Regions from separate parts of the Homo sapiens genome. Here region 1 is linked to region 2. Evidence: fine-mapped expression QTL. Tissue or cell type: whole blood. Region 2 holds a variant in brackets; the other region holds the start of a gene. All regions are shown on one strand. Distances are between the middles of the regions.

What was found. PIP is the estimated chance that this variant, and not a neighbour inherited with it, causes the effect.
Region 1: CHCHD10 starts here. The variant in region 2 is fine-mapped to the expression of CHCHD10 in whole blood (TOPMed, PIP above 0.99).

The regions. Positions count from the first base shown.
Region 1 is chr22:23,763,555-23,771,632 of GRCh38, reverse strand. CHCHD10 (coiled-coil-helix-coiled-coil-helix domain containing 10) reads left to right here and starts at 3,661. Exons shown (of 4, transcript NM_213720.3): 1 at 3,661-3,799; 2 at 4,040-4,259; 3 at 5,358-5,505; 4 at 5,607-5,799. The coding sequence starts at 3,759. The coding sequence ends at 5,626. C22orf15 (chromosome 22 open reading frame 15) reads right to left here. Exons shown (of 6, transcript NM_182520.3): 2 at 7,460-7,546; 3 at 7,236-7,373; 4 at 6,920-6,994; 5 at 6,731-6,840; 6 at 5,770-5,912. The coding sequence ends at 5,901. LOC107985577 (a long non-coding RNA gene) reads right to left here and starts at 3,407. Exons shown (of 3, transcript XR_007068022.1): 1 at 2,840-3,407; 2 at 326-446. RefSeq lists enhancers at 4,524-5,323, 5,324-6,123.
Region 2 is chr22:23,813,301-23,821,378 of GRCh38, reverse strand. SMARCB1 (SWI/SNF related BAF chromatin remodeling complex subunit B1) reads right to left here. Exons shown (of 9, transcript NM_003073.5): 6 at 4,443-4,609. Among named protein-coding and RNA genes, the nearest start is that of DERL3, 22 kb to the left of the region's middle. RefSeq lists enhancers at 4,446-4,947, 4,948-5,449. The variant G/T (reference allele first, on the strand shown) is at 4,667.

The DNA of each region.
Region 1 (8,078 bases), 50 kb after region 2:
CAACATGGTGAAACCCTGTCTCTACTAAAAATACAAAAATTAGCCAGGTGTGGTGGCACACACCTGTAAGCCCAGCTACTCAGGAGGCTGAAGCAGGAGAATCACTTGAACCCGGGAGGCGGAGGTTGCAGTGAGCCGAGATTGTTCCATTGCACTCCAGCCTGGGTGACAGAGCGAGACTCCATCTCAAAAAAAAGAAGGAAAGGAGGTGAGACTCAAAGGAGGGGTTGTGTCCACATTCTGGAAGGGATCCTTCAGTCTCATCCCTGATTTTCGGGGTTACCCAGTACTGCTGTACACCCCCTGAAATGATGAAGGGCCTCACCACCTCACCAGGCGACCTGTTCCATCATGGGTGGCCCTGCAGAGCCACGATCCAGGCAGTGGCTCGCATCCTGGCAGGCAGGGCTCTGAGCTGCTCAAAGGTGAGGCTGTGGTCAGGAAGCCTGGGCCAAGAAAGGGAAGCGGGTGGGGAAATGTTTCACAGCTTATTCAAGAAGACTCCACAGAGACTCCTAGAGGGCGAGGAGAAGTAAGACAGCAGTAATTTTTACAACCTACACTGTTCGTAATCTTTTCTTTTTTTTTTTTTTTTTTTTGAGACGGAGTCTCTCTCTGTCGCCCAGGCTGGAGTGCAGTGACGCGATCTCGGCTCACTGCAAGCTCCGCCTCCCAGGTTCATGCCATTCTCCTGCCTCAGTCTCCCGAGTAGCTGGGACTACAGGCGCCCGCCACCATGCCCAGCTAATTTTTTATATTTTTAGTAGAGATGGGGTTTCACCGTGTTGGCCAGGCTGGTCTTGAACTCCTGACCTCAGGTGATCCACCCGCCTCGGCCTCCCAAAGTGCTGGGATTACAGGCGTGAGCCACCGCGCCTGAAAGGCAATCTTTTCTTTAAAGTCACTCACTTTTATTTACTTTTATTATTTTGAGACAGGGTCTTGCTCAATGGTGTGATCTTGGCTCACTGCAACCTCCGCCTTCCAGGCTCAAACGATCCTCCTGCCTCAGCCTCCCAAGTAGCTGGGACTACCGGTGTGCATCACTATGCCCTGCTAATTTTTGTATTTTTTGTAGAGACAGGGTTTCACCATGTTGGCCAGGCTGGTCTCGAACTCCTGGACTCAAGCAATCTGCCTGCCTGGGACTCACAAAGTTCTGGGATATAGACATGAGCCACTATTCCCCGCTAAAGTGACTCATTTTTAAAAAGTAGGCATTTCAGGCCAGGCGTGGTGGCTCATGCCTGTAATCCCAGCACTTTGGGAGGCTGAGGCAGGCGGATCACAAGAGACCATCCTGGCCAACATGGTGAAACCCTGTCTCTACTAAAAATACAAAAAAAAATTAGCTGGGCATGGTGGCACGTGCCTGTAGTCCCAGCTACTTGGGAAGCTGAAGCAGGAGAATCACTTGAACCCGGGAGGTGGAGGTTGCAGTAAGCTGAGATCACACCACCGCACTCCAGCCTGGCAACAGAGTGAGACTCTGTTTAAAAAAACAAAAACAAAAACAAAAAAACAACAAAAAACAAACAATTAGCGGGGCATGGTGGCATGTGCCTGTGGTCCCAGATACTCGGGAGGCTGAGGCAAGAGAATCGCTTGAACCCAGGAGGCAGAAGTTGCAGTGAGTGGAGATCATACCACTGCACTCCAGCCTGAGCGACAGAGCAAGACTCCGTTTCAAAAAAAAAAAAAAAAAAAAGTTGGCATTTCAATGCCTGCTTCAGTGTCATCCTTTCAGCCTCATTTTCATTTGTGTAACCCACTTAAGTGGTCTTGGGTGCCTCCGAGGTGCAAGGCCATGCTTTGTGGAACCTGCAGTCCATCAGCCATGGGAGCTGAAGTAACAACTCTCTGCAGTTTAGGCCCGGGGACCACCATGAGAAGTGTTCAGTTTGTTTGGTGTGGCAAACAGGAACCAGGTGGCATGGACTGCATGAACAAGGGAGTAGCGGCTGGACCAGGCCTGGTGAGTCTGCCAGGAAAGAATGGCCCACCCTTGGTGTGCTCACCTCACTGGGAGGCCACCCTCAAGGTGGGTGGTCACCCCCCTTCAGAGAGGAGAAACTGAAGACAGGGCGGGGAAGGGCCCTGTTCACAGGCTGGCTGAAAGGACTGCAGTGTGAGAGAACACAGGGCTGCACCTGACTTCCATGGAGAGCATGCATGGCTGGGGACAGCTGTGCACACACAGAATTGAGCATGCCAGGCAGGGCCAAACGCCCCAGCCACCACTCCCCTTGCCCCTTGACCTGCTCCTTCCTTATGGAGGGGCCTCCTCTCTTACTTGGTGACCCACACCCCCACTTCTGGGTGCTTTTGCTCTTGGTTGCACCCTGCCGACAATCCCGGTGTCAGGAGTCCTCTGCAGGCACAGCAGTGATGAGGGACAGTCCCTACCTTCCCCCACCTAGGAGTAATAATATGACCACTGCAAAGTCACCCAGAAAAGACCATAAAAACCTCAAGCTCAGCCGGGCGCGATGGCTCATGCTTGTAATCCCAGCACTTTGGGAGGCTGAGGTAGGAGGATCATGAGCTCAGGAGTTGGAGACCAGTTTGGCCAACATGGTGAAACCCCGTCTCTACTAAAAATACAAAAATTAGCCAGGTGTGGTGGCACGAGCCTGTAGTCCCAGCTACTCAGGAGGCTGAGGCAGGAGAATTGCTTGAATCCGGGAGGTGGAGGTTGCAGTGAGCCGAGATCGCCACTGCACTCCAACCTGGGCGACAGAGCAAGGCTCCGTGTCAAAAAAAAAAAAGTAAAAAGTAAAATTAAAACCTCAAGTTCTCGAAGAGCAGGAAAGCATTCTAAATCCGCGCTCCAGCTCACCTGGCCTGGAACGAAGCTGCTAAAATTGCGAGGCCGCAGGCTTCAAACTTGCGCTAGATTTGACCGAGCCGGGCAAATGCTCCTAGGCCTTTGGGATAGACACGCTGCTCGGATGTCGCGTAAAGGCCGTTAGTGTCGGGGGTTGCACTCGCGGGGCCAGGGACTAGGTGGGGGCGGTCGGGCCGGCCCGGGGAATCCGGTGGGGTTCAGGGCCGCGCGGGGGGCCTCATATCCCCCGCGGGCACTGCGTAAGGCTGCCAGCATTGGCAGCGCATTTTGGCCAACAGTCGAAGACGGGTTGGGACGCCCCCTCGTGGGAGTTCTGGGGATGGGTTGCTCCAGGCCTTCCCCAGGGCCGCGCTTCACTTCCCTAGGCCACCGGAGACTCCCAGGCCACGCGGTGGTCAGCAGACCCTGTCTGGAGGGAGGGGACAGACAGCCGAGTCCGGGAGGGGGCAGAGAGCGGAGTCCAGCCTGGAGCCTCGCGTCCCCTTCCCAGCTGGCCCCATCCCGTCGCCTCCCCGTCTCCTCTCCCCTCCAGGGCTCGCAACAACCCCCAACTCCGCTCCCTGCCCTCTGCGGTGGTCCTAACAGAAGGCACTGTCGCCCTCCTTAAGCCCTCGGCGCTTTGCGACACTGGCCCCTGTCCCCAGAACCCGCACAGCCTGCCAGGCGCAGGGAGGGAGCAGGGTCCCATTTCCAGCCGAGACCCGGAGCTGCTGGAAGGGAGATGTCCGGAGGACGGGAGAAGGGGGATAGGGTTGGGGGCAGTGCCGCCTCCCGCTGGGGGCGTGTTCCTGAGGCCCCGCCCGGGGCCCCGCCTTTTTTGCGCCGGCTGTGACAAGCGCTGCGGCATTTGTCCCCGCGACAGCACCGCTGCCGCCGTCTCTAAGGTCGCCCGGGTCCCACCGCCGCCACCATGCCTCGGGGAAGCCGCAGCGCGGCCTCCCGGCCAGCCAGGTGTGAGGGGGACAAGGGCCCTGTGGGGAGGGGGTTAGGGAAGTGTGGGCACTCCCCTAAGGGCGTCCGCAGAGTGACCTTGGCTGCTGCTGCGCCATCTTGGCGGGGGGAGGGGTGGGGGTGCAGCACCCACGTGTGGAGACGTGGGTCGTCCATCTCTCCGGGGGTCGTTTCCAGGAGCTGCAGCCCTCCAGCCTGGGGTCTGGCCAGGATTAACCCTGCTTCCTCCCACCCCCGCAGCCGCCCAGCCGCGCCCTCTGCCCACCCGCCCGCGCACCCACCGCCCTCGGCAGCCGCCCCAGCCCCCGCCCCTTCGGGCCAGCCGGGGCTCATGGCTCAGATGGCGACCACGGCCGCAGGGGTAGCCGTGGGCTCGGCTGTGGGACACGTCATGGGCAGCGCCCTGACCGGAGCCTTCAGCGGGGGGAGCTCGGAGCCCTCCCAGCCTGCTGTCCAGCAGGTGAGCAGCGAGTCCAAGAGAAACTGAGGCAGGATTATCTCGAGGCCACACAGGGAGCTGCCCAAGTGTCCAGTGAGGAGTGTCCGCGTGTATTCACCATTGCTTCAGCCCAGGACTCTGCCCGGGAAGGGTCCTAGTCCACTGGTCTTGAGTTCACTGTCACTTAGAGGCAGGCTTCCCGGCCTCTCCCTTGAGGCCAGGGTCCCTAAGCTCCCAGGGAGAGACACCAACCAGCCCTTTAAAGATGGGAAACCCAGGCCCTGAGGGCTCAGAGACTCGCCCAAGGTCACCTCACCCTAGCAGAGGGGAGGGATGTTGGATTTCCTGAGCCCCTGTTCTCCCCACACCCAGGTCTGGGCACTGTGGCCGCTGGGCGCAAGGGCGAAGGGGAGCCACTTCCCTGATGACCTTTCCCCTGCTAGGAACCCCACCGCCGTAAGCCAAATGTGGCTTTGTGGCTAGGTCAGGGGTCATGAGGATTAGTGTAGCTGAGCCAGGAAGGTGCTAGAACTTGTGGGGGTGGGGCTCATACTCTGAGAGTACAGGCAGAGTACTGGGCTTTCCTAGAGCCTTCTCCTCCCTCTCCTGCACCCGCCCAAAGTGCCCATTAGAAGGCAGCAGAGGCCAGGCGCAGTGGCTCATGCCTGTAATCCCAGCACTTTGGGAGGCCAAGGCGGGTGGATCATGAGTTCAGGAGTTCGATACCAGCCTGGCCAACATAGTGAAACCCCCTCTCTACTAAAAATACAAAAAATTTGTTGGGCATGGTGGCGGGCGCCTGTAGCCCCAGCTACTTGGGAGGCCAAGGCAGGACAACCACTTGAACCCGGGAGGCGGAGGTTGCAGTGAGCCGAGACTGCGCCGCTGCACTCCACTCTAGGTGACAGAGTGAGACTCTGTCTCAAAAAAAAAAAAAAAAAAAGGCAGCAGAAACATGCTGTCTGTAGCCGCCTCTGCTGCTGGATCACTCAGCCTGCCTAGGACCCTTGGGACACCCAGGCTGGGGATGTGGGGAGGGGCAGGTGGCCCCAGGTTTGAAACGCACCTCCAGGTGCCAACTCCAAGCTGATCCTGCAGCCTCTTGCACTGTACCCCCAGGCCCCCACCCCCGCTGCCCCCCAGCCCCTGCAGATGGGGCCCTGCGCCTACGAGATCAGGCAGTTCCTGGACTGTTCCACCACTCAGAGTGACCTGTCCCTGTGTGAGGGCTTCAGCGAGGCCCTGAAGCAGTGCAAGTACTACCATGGTGAGTGAGTGGACCCCGACTCAGGCGGGGAGGGGGAGAGGCCAACCCTCCTCTTGCACCTGCAGGCTGACCACCAGCCTGTGCTGCCCCTCCCTTCCCAGGTCTGAGCTCCCTGCCCTGAAGAGGTCGGTGCAGACTCGGGGGCCAGTCCTGCACCCACCTCTACCCCTCGCCGACAGCCAGACCACAACACCAGATTGTACCCAGATAGCTGGGATTGGAAGTGAGGAGGTTTCTCACCCCACAGATAACCCAAGACACAAATGTGCAATTAAAAGTTTATTTTAGACCACAGCCTGTTGTGTGCCTCTCTCGATGGCCTGTCTTCAGGGAGCTCCCTGGCTGATGAGGTGGGGTCAGGATGGATGTCTCACTACAGTGTGCAATCCATCCCCTTAATCAGGGCCCTGGGTGGGGAGGAGGAGCCCTGTTGCAATCTGCACTGTGGGTAGCACAGGACAGATTCCTTGGGCAGTCCAGAGTGAGGTGGAGAGGCATTAGTCGGTGATCCCAAGGGCATCTGACTCTGAGGGTGGAATCCCAGGATGAACCCATGGTCTCCCCCTTATCAGGGATACCTGCCACCTCTACCCTTCTTGTCTCTACCTCTGCATCCCATTCTCTGCACCCACAGCTTAGGTGCCCCTGGCGGCCTCAAATCCTGTCTGACCTTGCCCCTCTTGCTGATGCAACTTCTCAGCAATTCCAGATTCTGCAAGAGGAGTCCTGCTGGGTTGTTGTCTGTTTGCACCTGATCACACAAGGCAGAGGTCATGGCTAACCCCCTTGGGTCTGAGTCCAACTTGGCTAGTTGGCAGTAGTGTGCCAGGTCCCCAAGCCTGCCAGAATGGAAGAACAAGCCCTTCAAACCCAGTGTGGGCCGTGCCATCACACACCATGCTGCCGCCTTCATTGAGTTCATCCAGCAGTTGTGCACTGAGCTCCTACTGTGTGCCAGCCCCTATGCCACATCTGTGAAGCCTGAGGACATTCCGGCCCTTAGTGCGCTGGCACTCCCGTGGGGTGGTGGGGACCTGTCTCAGGGTACAGTGTGTTCCATCTGGGGGTATATGTGCGTGGAGTTGGTGTTGAGGGTCTGCCCCTCATCATATGTGTCTGTCCTGCAGGAAGGGATCCCACTCTGGGTGTCTCTGTGGATGTCCAAATCTGCTCTGTACCTGGCTCCCTGCCCCAGCTAGCAACTCCTGGGTGGCAGGGAGCTCACCTTTCTGGGCCTTGAAGTGGGGCTTTGCTCATGGCGGCCTCGCCGAGTGCCCATACGCTTCCTCCAGTTGTGGCCCACAGAGGAGAGGCCTGACAGCCTGCGCAGTTCCTCTGGAAGGCCCAGGAAGTCCTGTTGGTAGGGGTTAGGGAGAAGGTGTGCCCTCCCCCTGGGCTGTACCCTGACACTCACCTGCCAGCTCTGGGTAATGGTCATCCAGGTTCTCCAATAGGGACTCATAGCGGGTGGAGGCCATGTCCTCTCCCTCTGTGACATGTGGAGAGACGATGAAGGACACCTGACTGGCCTAATGGTCCCTACTCTGCCTCTCACTCTGGAACTGTTTGCTAGTCCAGGCTGGGAGCAGAGCATTGGGTAGGGATGGATTGGGGCTAGGTCCCCAGCCGAGGTGGGAGGCCGGACAGGGCCTTGGGTGGTCTATGGTCTGCTATGCCCCCCTCTTACATTCTACCATAGCTGCAGGGGAGAGAACCTTGGGCCACCTTACTGATGATCCGAACGAGGACATATATGGCTCGCTCCTTCAGTAGGGAGTTGCCCATGGTCTGGGCCCGGGAAGCCCCTTCCTTCAGGTCCTCCTCCAGGCTCACTAGGTTGCCATCCTCAGCCAGGAGAGCAATGGTCGCTGGGAGGACATGGAGAGAGACTGGGCAGGGCTGGCACCCCTGCCTGGGACCCCTCAGCCCCTCCTTCTCCTCCCTGTCTCCTCACCATCTGGGGGCAACCCTGCTTTCTGCCTCAGGTGGGCGGTGAGGTTCACCAGCCTGCAAGAGGTGTTCACCAGCACCGAGCAGCCAGCTGTGGAGAGGGGCAAAGGTGAGCCTGTGAGATCTCTTACCTTCCTCCAAATCGGGGTCCTCTGTCTCTCCCTCCCATCTCTCCCTTTCCCAGAGCTGCGACTGGGCCTATGGGCTAAGACTGTGCCCCGGGCATAACAGCTCCAACATCTGTTGCTTAAACTGCCTTGGAGAACCCTCCATCCATCTCCCATGTGTGGTGACTTTTCTCCCATGTGTGGTGACTCCCAAGTGTTGGTCTCTTGAGTCCTGCAAAGCACGAAGTGGGCGCCAGCCCAGCCTCCTCCCGGGACCCGCCCCCACGGGACCCAGCCAGTCCCCGCCCTCCGCACCCACCGGCTCCTCTCTTCCCTTCCGCTACCGCACAGGGCCGACCCGCCTCCAGCCAGAGGCACGGGGACCCTGCAACTGTGGCTAGAGTTTCAGGTGTCTGATGCACGCTGAAGCTTGAGGATCACGGATTGAATGGCGAAGAGATTGTGCGGCTTAAAAACCTGCTCCAGGGTAATGCGGCGGTCTCTGGCCGAGAGGAA
Region 2 (8,078 bases):
GAAACCCTGGGTGTGACCTTCTATTCCTCATGGGCAAGACAGGACACTGTTCCCAGGGTCACGGTGCCCAGGAGGCCTCTGGCCTGAAAAATGCAGTCTGTCCCACATAACACAGGCTTCCCTGGGCCAGCTGTGTCCACCCTGTGACATCTGGTCTGACCCAAAGGGCAGAGCAGGACACCTGGCTGGGGACAGTCTCTCAACCTGCCAGCTGCCACCATCCCCCAGGTGGGAATCACAGGTAAGTCAGAGGGTCACTGGGGAAGCCTCTTCTGGTGGGGCAGGGAACAGCCCCAGGAGGATTACAGCTGCTGGGCAACTTCCTGTATGGCTCCTCTGCAGGCCCCGTCAAGACAACAACAATGAAAATGGGCTCAATTCTGAGAAAAACGTTAAGGGAAGCTACCAGTCAGGCTTCATGAGGCCCCTTGTGTGGCCAATCCCAGTCATTTGGAACCACGTGGCTGGGTGGGTTAGCCCACACAGCCTCATCCTCCACATGTTTACAAGACAAAGAGAAGCACAGAGTGGAGCCCTCAGGGCTGCCCTCCAGAGCCAGCAGACCGTATGCAGGACACAGGCCAGGTGCTTGCTGCCACTCCCATCCCCACCCCACTTCTCTCCTACCATTGTCCCTTCTTTTCCTCCTAGCTGGCCATAATGTGAAACTGAAACAAATTTGTATTCCTCTCAAAAAGGTATTAACAAGTAAAGAGACTGAATCAATAATAAAATCTTCCTGACAAAGAAAAGCCTTAGACCTGATGGCTTCATTGGTGAATTCTACCAAACACTGATTGACTGACTGAGTCAGAGTCTCGCTGTCAGCCAGGCTGGACTGCAGTGGCACCATCTCGGCTCACTGCAACCTCCGCCTCCCGGGCTCAAGCAATTCTCTTGCCTCAGCCTCCTGAGTAGCTGGGATTACAGGTGTGTGCCACCATACCCGGCTAATTTTTGTATTTTTAGTAGAGACGGGGTTTCACCATGTTGGTCAGGTAGTCTCTAACTCCCGACCTCAGGTGATCCGCCCGCCTCGGTCTCCCAAAGTGCTGGGATTACAGGCGTGAGCCACTGCACCCGGCCATCTACCAAACATTTAAATAGGAGCTAACACCAATCCTTCTCAAACTATTCTTTAACTCATTGCCCTGATACCTAAGTCAGACAAAAAATACTACAAGAAAGGAAAACTACAGACCTACACCCCTTATGAATGTTGATGCAAAAATCCTCAAAAAAATGCTGGCAAACTGGCCGGGCACAGTGGCTCACGTCTATAATCCTTTGGGAGGCCAAGGCAGGTGGATCACCTGTGGTCGGGAGTTCGAGACCAGCCTGGTCAATATGATGAGACCCCGTCTCTACTAAAAGTACAAAATTTAGCCGGGCGTGGTGGCATGCGCCTGTAGTCCCAGCTCCTCCTCGAGAGGCTGAAGCAGGAAAATCGCTTGAATCCAGGAGGTGGAAGTTGCAGTGAGCCAAGATCATGCCACTGCACTCCAGCCTGGGTAACAGAGCGAGACTCTGTCTAGAAAAAGAAAAGAAAAGAAAAACTAACAAGTGTGAGTGAGGATGTGGAGAAACTGGAACCCCTGCGCCTTGCTGGTAGGAATATAAAAGGTGCAGCCACCGAGAAAGGCAGTATAGTGGATCCTCAAAAAACTAAACATGGAATTACTGTACGATCCAGGAATTCCATTTCTAGGTATACACCCAAAAGAAATGAAAGCAGGGGCCAGACACAGGGGCTCACACCTATAATCCCAGCACTTTAGGAGGCCGAGGTGGGCAGATCATTTGAGTTTGGGAGGCTGAGGCGGAGTTTGAGACCAGGCTGGCCAACATGGTGAAACCCGGTCTCTATTAAAAATCCAAAAAAATTAGCTGGGCATGGTGGTGGGTGCCAGTAATCCCAGCTACTCAGGAAGCTGAAGCAGGAGATTGCTTGAACCTGGGAGGCAGGAGTGCCATGAGCCAAGATCGCGCCACTGCACTCCAGCCTGAGCAACAGAGTGAGACTCCATCTAAATGAATGAATGAATGAATGAATGAATAAATGAAAACAGGGACACCAACAGATACCTGCACACCCAGGTTCATAGCAGCATTATTCACAATAGCCAAAATGTGGAAGCAACCCAAGTGTCTGTCCATTTAGGGATGAATAAATAAAAATGTGATAGATCCATACAACAGAATATTATTTAGCCTTAATAAGAAAGGAGGCTGGGCGCAGTGGCTCACGCCTGTAATCCCAGCACTTTGGGAGGCTCAGGTGGGCAGATGGCTTGAGCCCAGGAGTTTGAGACCAGCCTGGGCAACATGGCGAAACCCCATCTCTACAAAAAAAATACAAAAAATCAGTCGGGTGTGGTGGAGTGTGCCGGTAGTCCTAGCTTCCCAGCTACTCAGGAGGCTGCACCGGGTGGATCACTTGAGCCCAGGAAGCAGAGGTTGCAGTGAGCCATAACTGCGCCACTGCACTCCAGCCTGGGCAACAGAGTAAGACCCTGTCTAAAAATAAATACATTTTAAAAAGGGAAGGAAATTCTGACATGGTGCAACATAAATGAACCTTGAAGACATTCTGCTAAGTGAAATAAGCCAGTCACAAAAGGACAAATACTGCATGATTCCCTTAGGAATGTAAATGAGACACCTCGAGTAGTCAAATTCATAGAGACAGAAAGCAGAATGGTGCTTGCCAGGGGTGGGGGGAGGGGGAATGGGGAGTTAGTGTTTGATGGACAGTTTCAGTTTTACATGATGATAGAATTCTGGAGATGGATGGTGGTGATAATTACACAGCCATGGATGTGAATATACTGCCACTGAATTTACACTTAAGTGGTTAAAATGGTAAATTTTATGTTATGAATGTTACCACAATTTTAAAATATTAATCAAGAAAACAAAGTATTGGCCAGGTGTGGTGGCTCATGCCTGTAATCCCAGCACTCTGGGAGGTCGAGGTGGGCAGATCACGAGGTCCAGAGATCGAGACCATCCTGGCTAACGCGGTGAAACCCAGTCTCTGCTATAAAAAATACAAAAAATTAGCCAGGCGTGGTGGCAAGCGCCTGTAGTCCCAGCTACTTGGGAGGCTGAGGTAGGAGAATGGTGTGAACCCAGGAGGCGGAGCTTGCAGTGAGCTGAGATCGCACACTGCAAGCCAGCCTGGGCGACAGAGTGAGACTGCGACACACACACACACACACACACACACACACACACACACCCAAAGTATTTCGGCCAGGTGCGGTGGCTCATGCCTGTAATCCCAGCACTTTGGGAGGCTGAGGTGGGTGGATCACCTGAGGTAAGGAGTTTGAGACCAGACTGACAAATATGGTGAAACCCTGTCTCTACTAAAAATACAAAAATTAGCCTGGCTTAGTGGCGGGCAACTGTAATCCTAGCTACTCAGGAGGCTGAGACAGGAGAATTGCTTGAACCCGGGAGGTGGAGGTTGCAATGAGTCAAGATCGAGCCACTGCACTCCAGCCTGGGCGACACAGTGAGACTGTCTTGACTAACTAAATAAGATATTTAGTTGTTTGTTACTTGGGGGACCACAGAGGAAGTTGCTGGTGATTCCCCCACGTTATTTTCCAAAATCTTAGTAAAGTGCCACGGAGAACCACAGTGGGAAGAAGTCGGCCCAGGCTCCATCTGGTGCACGGGGCAGAGGCATCCCTCAGTCACAGGAGGCATCCCTCCCGAGGCTCCTCGACCCCAAAGACTATTTTCAGGAACCCTTTGTAACATGGCTCTTATTTTTATACATCAATGTTTTCCTAAAATGGAAGCCAAAGGCACAGCATCAGATCTAACCAAACCACTGACCTTTTTAGGGTCATCACATGTGCCAATTTCACCTACTTCTCATATCTTCCTATTTTCAAAGCTCCCCTCACCCTCAAGGCATAGTCTGGCAGTGGCGGCTCAGCACAGCAAGGATTATGCTATAGGCTCTGCAGGGTGCAGGCCTGCGCCCAATCGCCAGCCTCACCATTTCTCAACTGGCCAGTTTGCAACTTCCGCAGGTGATCTCAGCTCTCCACGTGCCCACCTCTTCACCTGTAATATGGCCACTAAGGCAGCATCTTATTGGGTTACTAGGCCCCCCTGGAGCACTCAGCCTGGCCCAGCCAATCAGCTGCCTTCACCTCCTCTAGACCTCCGGGCTTTGCTCAGAGCCTGGCAGTGCCTCAGAGACACCCCCTGAATGTGTCCGGAATATAACACTTTACTATGAGAACTCAGCCTATGCCCTTCCTGGGGGATTGCAGGGAGCAAAGCCAGGTGTTATGACTTTCCAGATGATATGGAACCCAAAGACGGGCTTCTGCTGAGGCCTTGGTGTACCCTCAGTGCTCCATGATGACACCCACCCTGAGGGCCAGGAAGGCTCCAGTGCTGGGTGAGAAGTCACCTACCTTGATGATGACGCGCTGGTCTGACTGGTCCTCCAGGATGCTGTCCGTGGGGTAGGACTCGATCTGCTGTCTGATGGCAGAGGCGATGGCTGGCACAAACGTCAGCGGGTTCAAATCCAGATCGTCACAGAGGATTTCTGAAAACATCTCAGGCGTCATCAACTTCTCTGAAATCAGGAGAGGGAAGGGATGCCAAGAGATTGCACCATGCTTGGGCATGGACC[G/T]GCCTCCCTCACCCCTTCTTCTTTGAAGCCAAACATCTCCGGATGCAGGAGAGGACAACCAGGGCACTGGGGGTGGCCTTCCTGGAAACTGGGAGTGGAAGGAGGAAGCACATGACTAGCAGGCCCCCAGCCCTCATCCTGCACAGACCTCCTGCTCCATGCCCTGGGGGTGGTCATGGCCATAAACACTTCCCTCATTCCACTCATAGCTGGGTGGGCGCATGAGATTATCCCAACTAATGAGATGATCCAGGCGAGGCCAGCAAAGGCACATCAAAGCTTGCGTGCCATCTCTCTACTCCCCTCTGTGCTGAACTGGTGGCAGACGTGATGGCACAGAGGCTGGCCCAATACCAGGCCTCATGTGAGCAAAACACACTGTGCCAAGCCACAGCGATTTCCAGGCCTGTGACTGCAGTAGCAGCAGCAGGGCCTCAACAAGGTCACAAGCGTGGAGGTCCCTACAGATCCCGGATCCTGGAAAAGGAATTGTACCAGATGGGAGCTCACAGGGACCATCTGTGGCCAGCCAGACCTCAGCAAGGTCCTCTCAGTCAACATTCTCTCCCTGCTCCACCCAGACCGTACTGACAAGACGCCTTGCAGGAATAAGCTGAAAAAGCCAAGAAAAATTGCCTCAGAGCAGACAGTAGGATTCCATCATCAAGAAGCAGGTCGGCCTAACAGACCACAGCCCCACTATCTCCTCCCTGCCCTAAAGACACGCTGGAGACCAGCATCCTAACAGCCTGCGGGGCAGCAACAGCAGGAACCTCAGGTGCACGGGGTAAACACCCAGTGAATACACTGCCCAGAGCATTTTAAAATTTTTAAGTAATTGTAGATTCATGTACAGATGCAAGAAACAACACAGAGAAATTCCATGCACACTGCGCCCAGTTTCCTCCAAAAAAGACAAGATAGAGGACTGTATCTGTATCCAGTGATTCATCCAGATTGTCACTTCCTTTTACTGCCAAGTGACATTCTGTGGTACGAAGGGGCCTCACTTTAACTATTCACTCACTGAAGGCTATCTAGATCATTTCCAGTTTCCCGCTATTATAAATAAAGCTGCTATGAACATCCACGTGTAGGCTATTGTATAAACATGTCTTCATTTCTCCAGGATAAATGCTCAAGGTACACTGGTTGCATGTTTAGTTTTTTGTTTGTTTTGAGACGGAGTCTCGCTCTGTCGCCCAGGATGGAGTGCAGTGGCGCTATATCGGCTCACTGCAAGCTCCGCCTCCCGGGTTCACGCCATTCTCCTGCTTCAGCCTCCCGAGTAGCTGGGACTACAAGCAGCCACCACCACGCCCAGCTAATTTTTTGTATTTTTAGAAGAGACAGGGTTTCACCATGTTAACCAGGATGGTCTCGATCTCCTGACCTCGTGATCCGCCCGCCTCGGCCTCCCAAAGTGCTGGGATTACAGGTGTGAGCCACCACGCCTGGCCGCATGTTTAGTTTTTAACAGAAATTGCCACACTGTTTTCTAGGGCAGTTTTCCAGCCACTTTACATTCCCATCAGCAGCTTGTGAGTGACCCAGTTCCTCCACATCCTCGCCAGCATCTGATGCTGTCACCACTTTTTAAAGATGTGGAATAACAGTGTAATTTTAATCTGCATTTCCCTAAGGCTAACAATGTGGAAAAGCTTTTCAATGTTTATTTGCCACCTATATAACTTCTTTAGTGAAATTTCTCTTCCTGTCTTTTGCCTTTTTTTTTTTTTTTTGAGACGGAGTTTTGCTCTTGTTGCCCAGGCTGGAGCGCAACGGCGTGATCTTGGCTCACAGCAACCTCGGCCTCCTGGGTTCAAGCAATTCTCCTGACTCAGCCTCCCAAGTAGCTGGAATTACAGGCATGCGCCACCATGCCCGGCTAATTTTGTATTTTTAGTAGAGACGAGGTTTCTCCACGTTGGTCAAGCTGGTCTCAAACTCCTGACCTCAGGTGATCCGCCCACCTCAGCCTCCCAAAGTGCTGGGATTACAGGCGTGAGCCACTGTGCCCAGCCTTTTTTGTTGTTGTTGCTTTTTTGGGACAGAGTTTCACTCTTGTTGCCCAGGATGGATTGCAACAGCGTGATCTCGGCTCACAGCAACCTCTGCCTTCCAGGTTCAAGCGATTCTCCTGCCTCACCCGCCCGAGTAGCTGGGGTTACAGGCATGCGCCACCACGCCCAGCTAATTGTGTATTTTTAGTAGAGACGAGGTTTCTCCATCTTGGTCAGGCTGGTCTCGAACTCGTGATCTCAGGTGATCTGCCCACCTCAGCCTCCCGAAGTGCTAGGATTACAGACGTAAGCCACTGTGCCAGCCTACTTGCCTATGATTGTCTAATTGCTCCAGTGCCATTTTGTTGAATGAGCTGTCTTTCCTCCATTGAATCACATTTGCATCTTTGTAAAAATCAGGAGGGCACGTTTGTGTGGGTCTGTTTCTGGATTCTCAATTCTGTTCCATCACGGTATGTCACTCCACCAATACCACACAGCCTTGATTATCGTAGCTATATAGTAAGCCTTGAGATTGGGTAGAATGATTACTCCCACTTTACTGTTTTTCAAAATTGCTGGCCGGGTGTGGTGGCTCATGCCTGTAATCCCAGCACTTTGGGAGGCTGAGACAGGCGGACTGCCTGAGCTCAGGAGTTTGAGACCAACCTGGCCAACATGGTAATACCCTGTCTCTACTAAAAATACAAAAATTAGCCAGGCATGGTGGCGGGCACCTGTAATCCCACCTACTCGGGAGACTAAGGCAGGAGAAACGCTTGAAACCGGAAGGTGGAGGTTACAGTGAGCAGAGATCATGCCACTGCACTCCAGCCTGGGCAAAAGAGCAAAACTCCATCTCAAAAAAAAATAATAATAATAATAAATAAATTGCTTTAGCTATTTTAGTTTCTTTGCCTTTCCATATAAATCTTAGAACCATCTTATCTACAAAAAAAATCTTGCTGGGATTTTCACAGAAATTGCATTAAATCTGTATATCAATTTGGGGAAAACTGACATCATCTTGAGTCTTTTAATCCATGAATATGATATGTCTACTTATTTAGGTCTTCCTTCATTACTTTCGTCAGTGTTTTATAGTTTTTGGTATATAAGTCCTGTAAATGTTTTGTTGGATTTATACCTAAGTATTCCTTTTTTTATTGAGTGATGATAAATGGTAATGTATTTTTAATTTGTGTCTAGGTACTCATTAATGGCATATAGAAATAAAATGGATTTCTGCATGTTTACCTTGTATCCCTTGTATCTTGTGACCCTGGGGAATTCAGTTATTAGTTCTCCAAGTTTTCTGTAGATCCCTTGGGATTTTCTACACGGACAATCATGTCATCTGCAAATAGGATTTTATTTCTTCCTTTCCAATCTACACGTCTTTTATTTCC